Homo sapiens: one gene and its partner. The gene in region 1 interacts genetically with each later gene. Each region holds a gene or a part of one and is shown in the gene's direction. Other genes may lie near its edges.

Region 1 (7,022 bases):
ATCTAATTTAATATTTCAGAATATTACAAGCCTAAATATTCTCTAAATTAGTGGGGGGAGGAATGTCTGAGTTTACTTTGCAAAGAACATTATTTAAAAGGCTAGTTTAACATTTTAGTAGTCATCAAGATAAATATAATGTTTTAAAATGATGTTAGAGTGTATACACTTTGGTATACCAAATAACAATAATGATAAATAAAAGAAAATGAGGCCTCAGATTTGCCTTCCTTGTGGCTTTGTTACTAACTAGCCATGAGATCTTAAGCCAGTTATTCGATCCCCAGCTTTCCTCTTCTGTAAAGTAGATATCATAGTGCCTATTCAGCATGCCTTTCTGGTAGCATACATATAAGAGAATAAGATGAGAGAGTTTCTTGAGTATTTTGAAGAACTTAAAAACAGTGCAAATAAAGTGTTTTTTAAATTATCATCTCAAAATTGTATGCCACAGACAACCAACTTATAAAAGCAGTCATAAAATAAATGAGAAATGGATTATGATAAATGGTTTAGAGTGTTCATTGTTATGGTAGTAATGGTGGCAAATTTGTTTATTTGTTGGCCTCTGTAAGAATTTTTTATAGCATTTTTTTAATGCTGAAGTTCTATTAGAATAATTGATGAGATTTCCTTAATTTTTTAAATTCTCTTTTGAAAGTTGTGTTTGGACGTTTTCTATTTTTGTGGTGGTTGTTGTCAAGCTGCCCCCACTCCCACACCTTGCGTTCAGCTTCCTGTACCTCCCTACTTCCCCTCAGGTGCACACACAAATACAACTTCTCACCCCACAAAAGTTCTTGGATAAAACCTAAGAAGAGTATCTCATGAACATTCTTAAATAGCATACTAAATTATATAGCTAGCTTTATCATAATGCTACCTTTAAAAATATTTTTCATAATGTATTCTTTCCTAGGAATTTTAAGACTGAGCAGGCTTTTGCTATATCAATACTAGTCAAATTGTTGGTCTTTTATTATGTAAAGTGCCTGAATAATTTTTGCAGGCTGAAGCAGAGGACCTGGATGGAGGAACATTATCACGGCAACATAATTGTGGCACACCACTGCCTGTTTCATCTGAGTATGTCTTTGTTACTATCATTGTTTATTTTGGAAAAAATAAACTTTAAAATGTGGAGTGCTGCTCATTGAGGGGTCTAGATGTTTCTCAGTAGCCTGACAGCACTCACAGTACCAGCATGTGTGTCCATTGTCTTATCAAACGTTTTACTGATTTAAAATAGGGCCTATTTTATGGCTCTTCAACTCTTCCTTGCTCCAGGACTTACAGAAGATGAAGTCAGTCTGTTGTTTGCTGGTAGGGGGAAGCCTTTGAATTGTAGTGTATTTCTTAGAAATCACAAAGCACATTTCATGACCCAGCTTTACAAATTAAAACTAATTCAAATGATAAAACCCAACATCAGTAAAATATTTTTATATCAAAAACTACTATAATCATATTTAGACATTTTTATTTGTTTTTTGTTGTTGTTGTTTTCTGAGATGGAGTCTCCCTCTGCTGCCCAGGCTGGAATGCAATGGCGCCATCTCAGCTCACTGCAACTGCACTTCACCTCCCGGGTTCAAGCGATTCTCCTGACTCAGCCTCCCAAGTAGCTGGGATTACAGACATGCACCACCACGTCTGGCTAATTTTTGTACTTTTGGTAGAGACAGGGTTTTACCATGTTGGCCAAGCTGGTCTTGAACTCCTGACCTCAGGTGACCTGCACACCTTGGCCTCTCAAAGTGCTGGGATTACAGGCGTGAGCCACCACGCCTGGCTATTTAGACATTTTTAATTGAAATTTAATTATGGTATTTTTGTCCTTTTGTATATACCCAGTGGATTAAAGTTAACGGTGAATTCACCTGAAGCTTGTTATAACTTTATACTTCTTGTCTGTTTTCTGAACAGGAAAGATATGATCCGCCAAATGATGATTAAAATATTTCGCTGCATTGAGCCAGAGCTGAACAACCTAATTGCATTAGGAGACAAAATTGATAGCTTTAACTCTCTTTATATGTTAGTCAAAATGAGTCATCATGTGTGGACTGCACAAAATGTGGACCCTGCTTCTTTCCTAAGTACTACATTGGGAAATGTTTTGGTGACTGTCAAAAGGAACTTTGACAAATGCATTGTAAGTTTTCTTTTTTAAAAAAATACCTTAGCATCCTAGTCATTGCAAAATATAGGTAAATGTATTTAAAATCGAGGGATTTCCAGCTTTCTGTTGGGGAATCTGTTGTTTATGTCCCTCGAAGCAGGGCATGGCAACAATCTACATGAACAGAGTTAGTTGGGTGGCACTATGCCAGCTAGTTTCCATTCCACACTGTGAATCTTGGCAAGTTCTGGAGGAAGTGGCACAGTGGCACCAGTTGCTTAAGAGATCCACTGGAGGCCAGACGCAGTGACTCACACCTGTAATGCCAGCACTTTTTAAGGCCGAGGTGGGCAGATCACCTGAGGTCAGGAGTTCGAGACCAGCCTGGAGAACATGGCGAAACCCCATCTCTACCAAAAATACAAAAATTAGCCGGGCGTGGTAGCACATGCCTATAATTCCAACTACTCGGGAGGCTGAGGCAGGAGAATTGCTTGAACCTGTGAAGTGGAGGTTGCAGTGAGCCAAGATTGCACCAGTGCTCTCCAGCCTGGGTGACAAGAGTGAAGACTGTGTCAAAAAAAAAAAAAAAAAAATCTACCGAATCACTGACATCTCAGTTTATTAGTCAATGACCATTGATTTAATGAAACAATTGAAACAATCATTTGGGTTTATTGTTATTGTTCTTCTTTTAATACATTCTAGTAAGAAAACTAATTTGATTATTTTAATTATTTAATTTATTTTAATAGTTTAGTAGCTTTAATAATTGTATTTTATTTTAGGAATAAATTGTTATAACTGAGCAATTATCATTTTCCTCCTAATAGAAAAAAATTTGACAACTTTCTTACTATCTGTTACTTTTTTTTTTTTTTTTTTTTTTTTTGAGATGGAGTCTCGTTCTTGTTGCCCAGGCTGGAGTGCAACAGTGCAATCTCGGCTCACCGCAACCTCCGCCTCCTGGGTTCAAGTGATTCTCCTGCCTCAGCCTCCCGAGTAGCTGGGATTGCAGGCATGCGCCACCACGCCCTGCTAGTTTTGTATTTTTAGTAGAGATGGGGTTTCTCCATGTTGGTCATGCTGGTCTCAAACTCCCAACCTCAGGTGATCTGCCCACCTCAGCCTCCCAAAGTGCTGAGATTACAAGCAAGAGACACCGGCCATCTATCCATTACATTTTTTATACTTGTATGTATGAATTGGGCTAGGCCAGGTTAAAAAATGCTTCATGAACACTTCTCAAGGCATGGCACTAGAGAAGGTAATCTAGACAAAGATATAAATTCATATTTTCTCATAAGTTGCATATATATATATAAAGGACATAGGTTTGCCACTGAAGAGGAGGGTGGTTTCTTCTGCCTGTCATACTTCTGTATATCTTATTTCAATAATGTCTTATTTTTGATAAGATCTTATCTCTCATTTATGAACACTGGTCAATAAGATCAATAGACAGCATTTATAAATGAGTGCTTACTGTGTACCAGGCACAAGTCTGGGCACTTTGCACACATTATGTCATCTAATCTTAAACCCAGCCCCTCAATAAGGTAGATTGTTTGAGAGGTGAAGTTACTTTCCCCAGGTCCACAGTTAAAAAATATGGATCTTGTATTCAAACCCAGAAAGTCTGGTTCTAGTACCTGCAATCTTACCACTACCTTTTCTACTGCATCTGTTTTTCACCTCACAGTTACCAATACTGATGAAGTAGAACATTAGTACAGATAATATGAAATAACTGACTATACTCTTAGGGTTTTCTTATACTAATGTCAGAAGCCTAGAGATAATTATTTTTCTAATCCATGTGTCATATGGTTTTTGAGTTATACTCCCCAAATCTCAACACAATGAAATGTTAGGTAGAAGCTGAAATAATACAAAAGTATTTGGCAGTGTAATCATTCCTACTGAGTAGATTTAGATCCCTTCAGAATCATAGAACCATAATTGAATCCGTGGATCGTTTTGAACCTAAGATTCTGTCTGCATGAAACATTTCTTTCGCATTTTGTCATATAATGCACAAGCAGTTTGTGGAACTAAGGCTAAGTGACTAATAAATATATGGAAAATTAAATAATGCAAATCCATATGGAAATGCCTATCCTCCCTCTTTGTTTCTGTACTCTGAAAATAGAGAGTTTGTCTATCCAGACAGAAATTTTAGACTGACGAAAATTGGAAATGACTGTGGTTCTCAAACTTGACCACGTGGCCACCAACCAGAAGTTACCCGGAGGGATCCTATAGGTGCTCTGGAATCTTCTCTCCTGTAACCTAAAATCAGTAATTGCCTTGTACTCATCTTTCATAAATGGTAGAAATGTGTGTTGACTGTTTTTACTTTGTACAGAGACTTGAAGTTCACGGCCTTGATTGTATTTTGTTTTGTTTCATTTTATTTTTTGAGACAGTCTTGCTCTGTCACCCAGGCTGGAGTGCAGTGGCGCAATCTTGGCTCACTGCAACCTCTGCCTCCCAGGTTCAAGCAATTCTCATTCCTCAGCCTCCCAAGTAGCTGGGATTACAGGCATGCACGACCCCACCCAGCTAATTTTTTTTTGTATTTTTTGTAGAGACGAAAATGGCCAGGCTGGTCTTGAACTCTTGGCCTCAAGCGATCCACCCACCTTGGCCTCCCAAAGTGCTGGGATTACAGGCATGAGCCACCGTCCCCAGCTTATAGATGGTTTTAAATAATCTGTATTATTTTGATTTTCTTAAACTTACTGTAAAATGGTTTTATTATCTATAGAATTAGTTTTTCTTAGTTATCCTTGTTTTGATTCATCTTCAATTAGTAAGCATCCAAAGTGTTCTAGGTACCACATAATATCCTGCCTCTATGATATCTATGTATATATCTATATCTCCATCTATATATTTTGTTATGATTATATGTAGTTTTAAAGTTGCTTGGTTATTTATCTCCCTTGCTCTCTGCCTAACTTTAGAGTAACCAAATAAGGCAAATGGAAGAAGTAAAGATCTCAAAAAAGAGTAAAGTTGGAATTCTTCCATTTGTTGCTGAATTTGAAGAATTTGCTGGACTTGCAGAATCAATCTTCAAAAATGCTGAGCGTCGTGGAGACCTGGATAAAGCATACACCAAACTTATCAGAGGAGTATTTGTTAATGGTAAGCTTTTGTTATGTTCTAAAGAATTGTTATAGCTATTGTTTTTATTTCTGGTAACTAAGAAATCGGGAGCAGATAGGTTCATTATTTTGTATATCTTATAATCTTTTTTAGGTTTTCTAACATTAAAGATTTCTTGAATTTGGAAAATAAAACCTATTTGTATTCATTATGAACCACTTACATTTTAGGGTTTATGTGGGCTTATGACTATGCAAAATTGAAAATCTTTTTTTTTTTTTTTTAAGATGGGCCTCACTCTGTCGCCCAGGCTGGAGTGCGGTGGCATGATCTTGGCTCACTGCAACCTCCACCTCCCAGGCTCAAAAGATCCTCCTACCTCACCCTCCCAAGTAGCTGGGACTACAGGTGCACCCTACCATGCCCTGCTAATTTTTTGTAGAAAATCATTTTTTAAACACAAAAACATGACCTTCCAGATTACATTTGCATTTTAACAAGTGGTCTTCTAGAGATGATGGGCTGTGATGTGTGTGTAACCTTAAGCAAATCAATTCACTTATTTAGGACTCAGTTTTTCATATCTACTATACAAGGAAATTAGTACTAAAATACAAGAGAAATTAGTGCTGAAATACTGTAATTCGCTTTCTTCCTGTGTCAGATCCCACAATTAAGTTACAGAAAAGTCTGGACATGTCATTTCATCTGAAATAAATGATCTGATTGCATATATTCAGGAATTGTAAAAGCTAAAAAATTGATAGAAAATGGAATCATCTCACCAATTGTTGCCCAGGTTGGAGTGCGGTGGCATAATCTCGGCTCGCTGCAACCTTCACCTCCCGAGTTCAAGCAATTCTGCTGCCTCAGCCTCCTAAGTAGCTGGGATTATAGGCAGGCATCATCACGCCTGGCTAATTTTTGTATTTTTAATAGAGACAGGGTTTCACCATGTTGGCCAGACTTGTCTCAAACTCTTGACCTCAAGTGATCTGCCCGCCTTGGCCTCCCAAAGTGCTGGGATTACAGGCATGAGCCACCGTGTCCAGCCTTGATTTTTTCTTTTAAAATTCAAAGTAGCTTTGCTTTATCTGATTCTAAAGTAATGTGGCTAGGCACAGTGGCCCACACCTGTAATCGCAGCACTTTGGAAGGACCAGTTGGGGGATCGCTTGAGCCCAGGAGTTCAAGACCAGCCTGGGCATCATAGTGAGGCCTTGTCTGTACAAAAAAAATTTAAAAAATTAGCCAGACGTGGTGGTGTGTCCCTGAGTTTCAGCTACACAGGAGGCTGAGGCAGGAGAATCATTTGAGCTCAGGAGGTCAAGGCTGCAGTGAGCCTTGTTCATGCTACTGCACTCTAGCCTGGATGACAAAGCCAGACCCTGTCTTAAAAATAAATAATAAATGAATGAATGAATTCATTATTCGTTCTTTATAAATCTTTATAAACTAAAACTTATAAAACTTAAGAACAGACAGATATTCCTTTAATTGGATAAAAAATCTATCTCAGGCCTAAAGGTTACATGATACTTAACTGCAACAGTAGAGATATTCCCTCTGAAATGAATTTAAAGCAGAAGTATTGTTAGATCCTTTATTATTTAGCATTGTTATTGAAGTGCTAGCCAGTACAAGACCTGAAACATAAATAACTATTTATCCCCAAAAATCAGCGAATAGAATTTTCAAATCAAGAAGAAAGTAAAGATCATTTTTAATCTTGTTGTACAGAGATAATGTTAAATTTTTATTCTTCCAAACTTTTAAATTCCCTGTC
Region 2 (7,597 bases), on another chromosome or scaffold:
GATAGTGGGCCAAAGCTCACCAAATTTGATATCAGCAGTCAATATTTATCTTGACTCTTAAAAGCAGAGCAGAGAAGGAACTATATGTTTAGTAAATTAGAGATAAAATGTGGACCATGTCACCTCAGTCAAAAAAGAAGGTGGACTCCAGTTATAGACAGCTAGAACCCTTAAAGGATAAAACCACAGACCAAGGGTAATTGTATAGGAAACAGAATAGGGTCCCAAATATAAGCTCCATAAGCCCATCTGAATTCCGAAGGTCTCCCAGATCCCATCATACCGATGTTACCAGAAGCGACACATTTCATTCCCAATTTACAAATGGCACATACATACAGTAGGCGCAGACCTCTCCCTAGTCTGGAGGTGCTCACTGCTACTGGCAAGACAGCCATTGTGAAAGTCAAAATGAAATCCTAAACTTTAAAAGAATCCATATTTTTAAAGTAAAAGGGTGAGAAGAAATTACAAAATGTATAAAAATGGGGAACTGAACCAAATGTTCCTGCTCCTCAATATATTATTTCTGCCCCTCACTACCAGGATTCTTTCTCTAGTCATTTTTCAAACTCCAAAATTTTCTTATGGAAATGTTCATTTGCAACTACAAGATACTCTTAAAATTGCATATGTCTTTGGAACGGCAGATAGTCTTGCACACGACTGTGAATTCATTTAATCAAGTTATTTTACTTAGTTCCAACTTGCAGCATACTAAATGAATGCTGATTGTTAAGAATAAAGAGCAAAGACAAGCTGATTGAGATAGAAAAAGGCCAGACAGAATGAGGACAATAGGTACAGGAAAAAGGATTTCAGGAGAATATTGGAGAAGTAAGGTGCAAAAAGAGCAGAAAGGAAAATAATTATTATTTTCACCTATTTCAAGGCCCAGAAAGGCCGGTGCTATACCCCTCAAAAGAGGAAGAGAAATTTATTTCTTTTTCTTGACCCTGTTGAACAGAATAGGCTCAGTTCCTAGGACCAGATGTGAATCTGGTACCATTACAAACCACAAACATTAAATAGGTTTTTTGGAACTAGCTTAGTGACATAGCTCTTGCAGGAAAATGTGATATTCTAAAAAACTTAAAGGAAGTCCTCTTACAGCTCTAGAACAAGGACTAACTTTGAGGAATATAATGAAGATGGAACATTTGAAATTTCCAATATTTTAGAAACTATGACCAACAAAAATGGCAGTTTCATATGGTTCAACCCAAAAGTTAATAAGCTGATGACTTCCTAAATGTCTTATCTGAAATTACATCATCAGAATGAAGAATTTGAAAAGCTACTTGCTACACCATGTAGCAGAAAAAAAAATTTTAAATATAGACTTTACTAGTCTTGAAGACATACTGTGATTGATGATGCATAAGAGATGCTGTTCAAAATAGTCACATTATAATACCCAATTCCAGATCAAGCCCTCTGTGTCCATGTCAATTTATTCCATTTGTTATTTAGACAGCACTTCCTTCAACAGCCGTAGGGAACCTAAGACATCTATATCCATGGGTGTTTTAGGTTGAGGTCGACAGTGGGCATTATGGGTTTCAGGGCAACTTTAGGTGAACTCAGTTTTCCCTTGTATCACTTAATGTGATTAATGTTCACATGGAGGGTTTTGCCACGTGATCTGGCATCCTTACAATCATGAGCTTACTTATGAAACAGGGAAGATCGCTTTTAGGTTTTCCTTTTCTTTCCCAGAATAGCAATTTAAAAGCCTCTAACTTAACATCTAGATGAACCATAAGGTCTTTTTCAGTTCTATCATTTTGTGATTAGATTTTATGGAAAAGAAAATGACTATGCTTGCTCTCACGTGCATAGGGTATTTCTATAACTATATGCAAGAAACAGGCAACATTAGTCTTTCTTGAGAAGGGAAACTTGCTTTTCCTTGTACTGAGCTTTTGTGCACTGAACTTTTTTTAAATACCATGTATTATTTGCTAACAAGAATTAAAAATACAATTTAAAATGTAAGCAAAGCATTTCACTTGTTAAAGTACAGAACCTCTCCCTGCATAAATGTTTAGTTCCTGTTCTTCTTGTTCTTCTTTATGACCTTACCATTATTGTGATTAAAAAAAAAAAAAAATCCTAGGCACTGTGGGAGGTGAAACAGATGCAGAAGACTTTGACGATGGAAATTGCTATTTATTCTGCAAATATTTGTAACTACTTGTTATGTGACAGATCCTGGGCTAGGTACTTCCTCCTTTACATGACTTCTGGAAGGCTTCTTGTTTAAACATCCACGGTCTTTTTTGTTTTTGTTTTTGTTTTTGTTTTCTTTGAGAGGTCTGCATGCTTAAAATGCTTCCCATAGATAAGCAGTGGTTTGTTCTCCATGAATGCAGCAACAAATTAGGTTACCTGCAGGGAGAATCACCTCCCACACTAAGGTAGGTCCCAGGTGTTTGAGGCAGACACTACCGTGATGACCGGTACATGAGTTAGAGAACACTTTGTACAGAGGGAGAGAGTCCTCTTGACTAGATCTGCAATATTGAGAACAAAAAGAGGCAAGTGAAGATAAAAAAGGAAGGTAGTAGAGGGAGATGACTGGCAATAGAAGCTAGTACAGTAGTATCTTACTTCACAAAATTATTGAGTTACCCAAAAGCTGATTCCAAAGTTTTGTAAATATCATCCCAACACATTAGAAAGGCTTGCTAAATTAAAGAAGCTTGCTACTTAGAGCTTTTGTCAAGCAAAAAGGCCCTTATTTCAATTCAAATTTTACATAGATGACTTGTAGGTAAGAACTCTCAACATTTTCAAAGCCCTTAGACATACATTTCTTTGGATTCTCACAAAAACGCCATGAGAATTGTTTTCCCTTCCACAGATGAGGAAAGTGAAGCTTAGAGGTTGAGCCACTTGCCCATGGAAGCCTGGTAGGGAAATGGCTGAGGTTAAGACCAGGACCCCGGCACACTACTCATTGGCACTAAGGTAGCCCCATGACATGTCTCTACAGAGATAGGCAGAGCAAAAGAAACTTACTTTTTCAGGCAATTTTCTCTGATTTTCATAAAACTGTAGCTACCAAATGGGGATACCTAGGGTATCAGTTTTATGATATCCTAGGTATCCCCGTTTCTCCCATTCTTCCCCTCCAAACCATCTTCCTGGGTCTGCTGCCCTGTCCATCTTCACAGAATTCAGTTCGGATTGTCTCCTCCCCCAGCATCTCTGCTATCTCCACGTAGTCTACAAACTAAGTGCAGGAGCCACAGACTGACAGTCAGGACTTCTGCCTGAGCCCCCATCCACAGCTCAAACCCTCTTTCCTATTTCACTATGCTAATGCTTACCCCTTGCACTCCAAACAAGCAGGTCTGTGTACCACCATCTAACACCCCAACAGGGCCAGGCTAGGGTGAGGTGAGTCACAGCACTTAAAGGTTCACCAAAGAATTCAGTAATCAAGGTTAATATTTTAATGGAATATTTAAAAAAATCAAAATTAATATCAAAAATGCATGATGAAAAATAACAAAATTTTAAATAAAGACAGGGTAAGTTTAGGGGTTTTTCCTATTGCTTCAGGCTCAAAAGTGCCTTCCGGGGCACTGTTATCGGCCCTGCAGTGACTCCCCACACAGATACTTTTACTAATGATGTTTCCCAAAAGTTAGTTCTTACAACCGCTTTCTACATTAGTAACGTCTTTCTTCTTGAACGCTCCAGCATTTAAGTGTAGCGCTCTACTGTCAGGAAAACCCATTTCCCCTAGTAACTAGTAGTACTTCGAAGATATTCTGAATCATCTTGGATCCTTTCCAGCACTTTCCCAAACCACAGTGAGCACTCAGCACCACTTCGCTAAAAGAGTGCAGAATCACAATGCTCAAATCACTGTCTGGGGGGTTCAGCAGGGAGGGGACGCAGATATGTTTTGTTTAGTCCAGGGTGTTTTGAGAAAATTGAATTTGTTATCAAGATTTTACAAATCAGGATATTGTACATGAATATACTCCGTCATTTCTGGAAAAATCAGAAAATCTAGCAACACTAGGTCTAATTCTTGCCCGATAGCAAGGGACCCTGAGAGCAGATAAGCGGCCCTGCCTTCGGAGCTCTCTCCAGTTCGCCTTCCCCCAGTTACAGTGCCTGTCAGGCCCCATTAGATCTTTGAGTTTGCTATCGTAAGAATAAAGGAAGGAGCGCACAGGATAAAAACCCATCGGCTGGGTCTATTCGTTTTTTCCTAGAGAAAAAAAAAAATGTTTCCTGGTTGTCCTTTCGAATATAGTCTCACAGAGAAGCTCACAGAAGCAGCCCACCTTTCTAGCCCACAAACTTCCCACAAGCCGTGAAAGTCGCACCGGCTCTTGCACCCAGATCGGTTTCTCCCGGGTCTTTGGCTCAGGGCCCCCGCCCCTACATTGGCCTTTCCCTTCCTCTGCCACCTCCGCGCTCCGAGGCCTGGGGCGGGTCGCGGGTCCCGGCCCCCAGCCCCCAGCCCCTAGCCGCTGCTCTTTGCCCCGGGCCAGGGCGCTCGGGCTCGCCCACGGCGGCACTGAGCATGCTCAGAGGCGGCCGCGCGGGCAGGTTTGCTTCGCAGGCGCTCGCACTCGGCGGCGGGCGGGCGCGCGGCTGCAGCTGGAGCTCCAGCGCCCGGAGTTGGAGTTGCCGGGAGTTTCCCCCCAACCCCTCCCTTTTCGCGCGCGGCAGCAGGAGCCGGCGCGGGAGCCGCGAGCGGCGGCGAGCCAGCACCCGGGCCGGCTAAGCCTTGTCCGGAGCCCGGAGCCCCGCGCGGGGCAGCCCCCCGGGGAGGAGCCTCGTGCTCTGGGACGCGTGCCGCGCACTGGCACGGCAGGGGCGCGAGCCAGGCTGCACGGTAGGACCGGGGCGAGGGGAGCCAGGCGGTCAGGGCGGAGGCCAAGCCCGGGAGATGCGGTTGCAGCCGCCACGGCTGTTGGGGCGCCTGGCGCTCCGTCCGAGGCGGGTGGCTGTGAGGCCAGGGGAGTAGGCAGGCTCCCAGAGAGATTCTTCCAAGTTGGCGGGTGGCGGGAGAGGGGGCCGCGCGCCCCGGCGCAGCTGCTTTGTGCGCGCAGAGAGGGACTCGTGTCCCTGGTTCTCTCCAACCCTGGGACCCGTTGTGCGGGCAGTATTGGGCAAGCCGCAGAACGGAGCGATTTCCTCCGAGAAAGTTGAGGATGGAGCCTTTTTTTCCGCACCGTCCCCGCGATGGCATGGGCCCCGAGAATGCTGCCCCGAGGCTCCCAGTGTGGGGGAGCTCGGGGTCGCTGCGCCTCTAGCTTGAGCGCAGAAATCCGCGAATCACTCCGATCTTCGCGAACTCTGGCATCTTCTAGGAAAATCATTACTGCCAAAACTGAGGCGAGCTTTTCTGGCGGGCACGGCACCCTGCCCCCAGGGCGCTGGCCCTGGGCGATGCCCCCTTTCCGATCTCAGGCTTGGTCAAGGGCGCCAGGTTCCGAATTCGCGCTTGCCGTGCACGCCGGCATCGAGCCTCACCAACACCGCCGGGCAACGTGGCTGGAGTAGGTGGGTGGCTTGATTTTCCCTCCAACCTTTCCTCAGGTTTACAACACCCCGCCACCTCACCACCCCACCCCGTTCATCTTCACAGAGGACAGGACCTGCAGGTGGAGAATTTGGAAAGACATCTTGTTCTTTAGGAGAAAGTCCCCGGGGTGTATCTGCCCTTGGTTCTGGCCCCAGGATTTCATAACGAACCTTCTCCCCTTCCTATTACGCTTCCCTAGGGACTGGGTGGGAGAGAATAGGATCGGTAGGTCCGCAGGAACTTCCATCTCATTCCACCCTCTCCTAAGATTGCCTTCCGGGCGACCCCAGGACCCTGGAACTGGCATTGTGCGGATTGTAAGGCTGTGGAGGATGCCGACGAATTTTTCCTGGCTCCACTTTTTTCACTTCTTGTTTTGAGTTTTGGGGTTTTGCCTGCACACTAGTCAGAGCTGCGCCCTAGTCAGAGCCACCCTGGGGGTGGAGGAGCTTCAGCCGAGGCTGTGAGCTGCTGTTCGTCTCAGAGGCTGCTAGTGGGAATCGGTCCAGAAATGATTATGCAGGCTAGAAATATGCCTCTCTTTTTTTCTTTTTTGGCTGAACACCTTGGCTGTTGGGTTTGTGTGTTACGTTCTTAAAGGGACACCCTCACACTGCTCAAGTGCCAGGATTTAGGGGCTCACCATTCTGCTGCCTGTTTTTCTCTTTGCTTTTTCCTTGAGGGTAGTCTGCTTTGGGGCCGATTTCTAGATGTGCGAATCACATAATGTGGATACACTACACAGTTCTAGAGTCAGACAGACTTGAGGTCAAGTTTCAGCTTTACAGCTGATGACAGTGCTGATGGACAAATGATTAGTCACTCTGAACTTAAGTTTTCTCTTCTGTCAAACGGAGATAATCGTGGCCTTACCTCCCTCCATTGCAGGGTTGTTGTAAACTCAGATGAGATAATGAAAATGAAAAGAGCTAAGAAAACTTTAAAAGCACCATTCAGGTCTTAGATATTGTCTCTGTGCTCTTTACTCAGTTGTTTTGAATGAGCTAATTCTTAATTATAACAAGACATCTAGGTCTTCTCTCCTCTCTGTCCACTCCTCACCAAGTGGTTTAGTTGCTTGGGCCTTTGGAAGCATCTGTTTACCCTTTTTCTTTCTCTATCCTCAAATCCATCTCTTTTGATTTTAAGAATTGGAGCTCCAGTCCTCATATTTATCTGAGGAAGGCAGCATGATGTAGATTAGGAGATGACTGGGGTGGCCTTATCAACATTCAGAGTCCTAGGCCCCAGAATTGGCACGGTCAGAAAGGCCTTAGTTTGAAACTCAAGGCTGATGAAGAAGTCAGCAGATCCTGGAATGGAGCTCTGACTTGACCTCTAATAGTGACCTTGAACTAAGGACTCAAATCCTAATCTGTGAAATCAGTCTATGAAGATTAAAAGCCAGTATCAATTGAAGGCAAGAACAGGTGAGATTATCACTCAGTTAAAAAGGGTTCACACAGGCTCCTGAGCCACCCCAGGTGCAGCATCTTCCCTAATCTTAGGGCAGTGGTTCTCAGATCAGAATCATCTGGAGGGCTTGTTACATCTCAAACTGTTGGGCTATACTGCCAGAGTCTCTGATTCTCTAGGTCTAGGGTGAAGGCCCAAGAATTAGCATTTCTGACTAGTTCCAGATGATGCTAATGGTGCTACAGACCATGCCTATAGAATCACTAACTTATGGAGTGGGAGATAGTAAGAGAGATGACGTTTGTTGTGAAATGCCATTATTTTACTAGCTCATATACAGAGACAAGGTTTCTTTGGGGGTGTGTTGGGAAGTCTCCTTAGGCATTTTATGTTCCAATGCCTGTGCCACTTACCATTATCTAGGTTTAATAATTCTGATTGCTCTTCAAATGGATGTATTTTACAAAGAGGTAGGATTCCCCCTTCTTTTCATACTGTAAAATATGTAGTCTCAGGTTTTAGATCACCCTTGGGTAGTGCCGGATTGGTGACCTTTATAATTTATAAAATCTAAAAACTACCCCATTTCCTTTTTTGGAGAAACCTCAGACATTTGTGGAAAGG

Evidence for each region.
Region 2: changes in EXOC1 (region 1) and STXBP6 together harm fitness more than expected from each alone (negative genetic interaction), as found in Homo sapiens cells (one study listed by BioGRID).

The regions. Positions count from the first base shown.
Region 1 is NC_000004.12:55,891,626-55,898,647, forward strand, and holds part of EXOC1 (exocyst complex component 1), read left to right. Parts: intron 1-919; coding exon of another isoform or gene 920-928; exon of another isoform or gene 929-1,009; coding exon 1,010-1,086; exon of another isoform or gene 1,087-1,087; intron 1,088-1,926; coding exon 1,927-2,155; intron 2,156-5,091; coding exon 5,092-5,275; intron 5,276-7,022.
Region 2 is NC_000014.9:25,047,145-25,054,741, reverse strand, and holds the start of STXBP6 (syntaxin-binding protein 6), read left to right. Parts: upstream 1-4,594; 5' UTR 4,595-4,864; exon of another isoform or gene 4,865-5,535; intron 5,536-5,741; exon of another isoform or gene 5,742-5,782; intron 5,783-7,597. UniProt on the Homo sapiens protein: Forms non-fusogenic complexes with SNAP25 and STX1A and may thereby modulate the formation of functional SNARE complexes and exocytosis.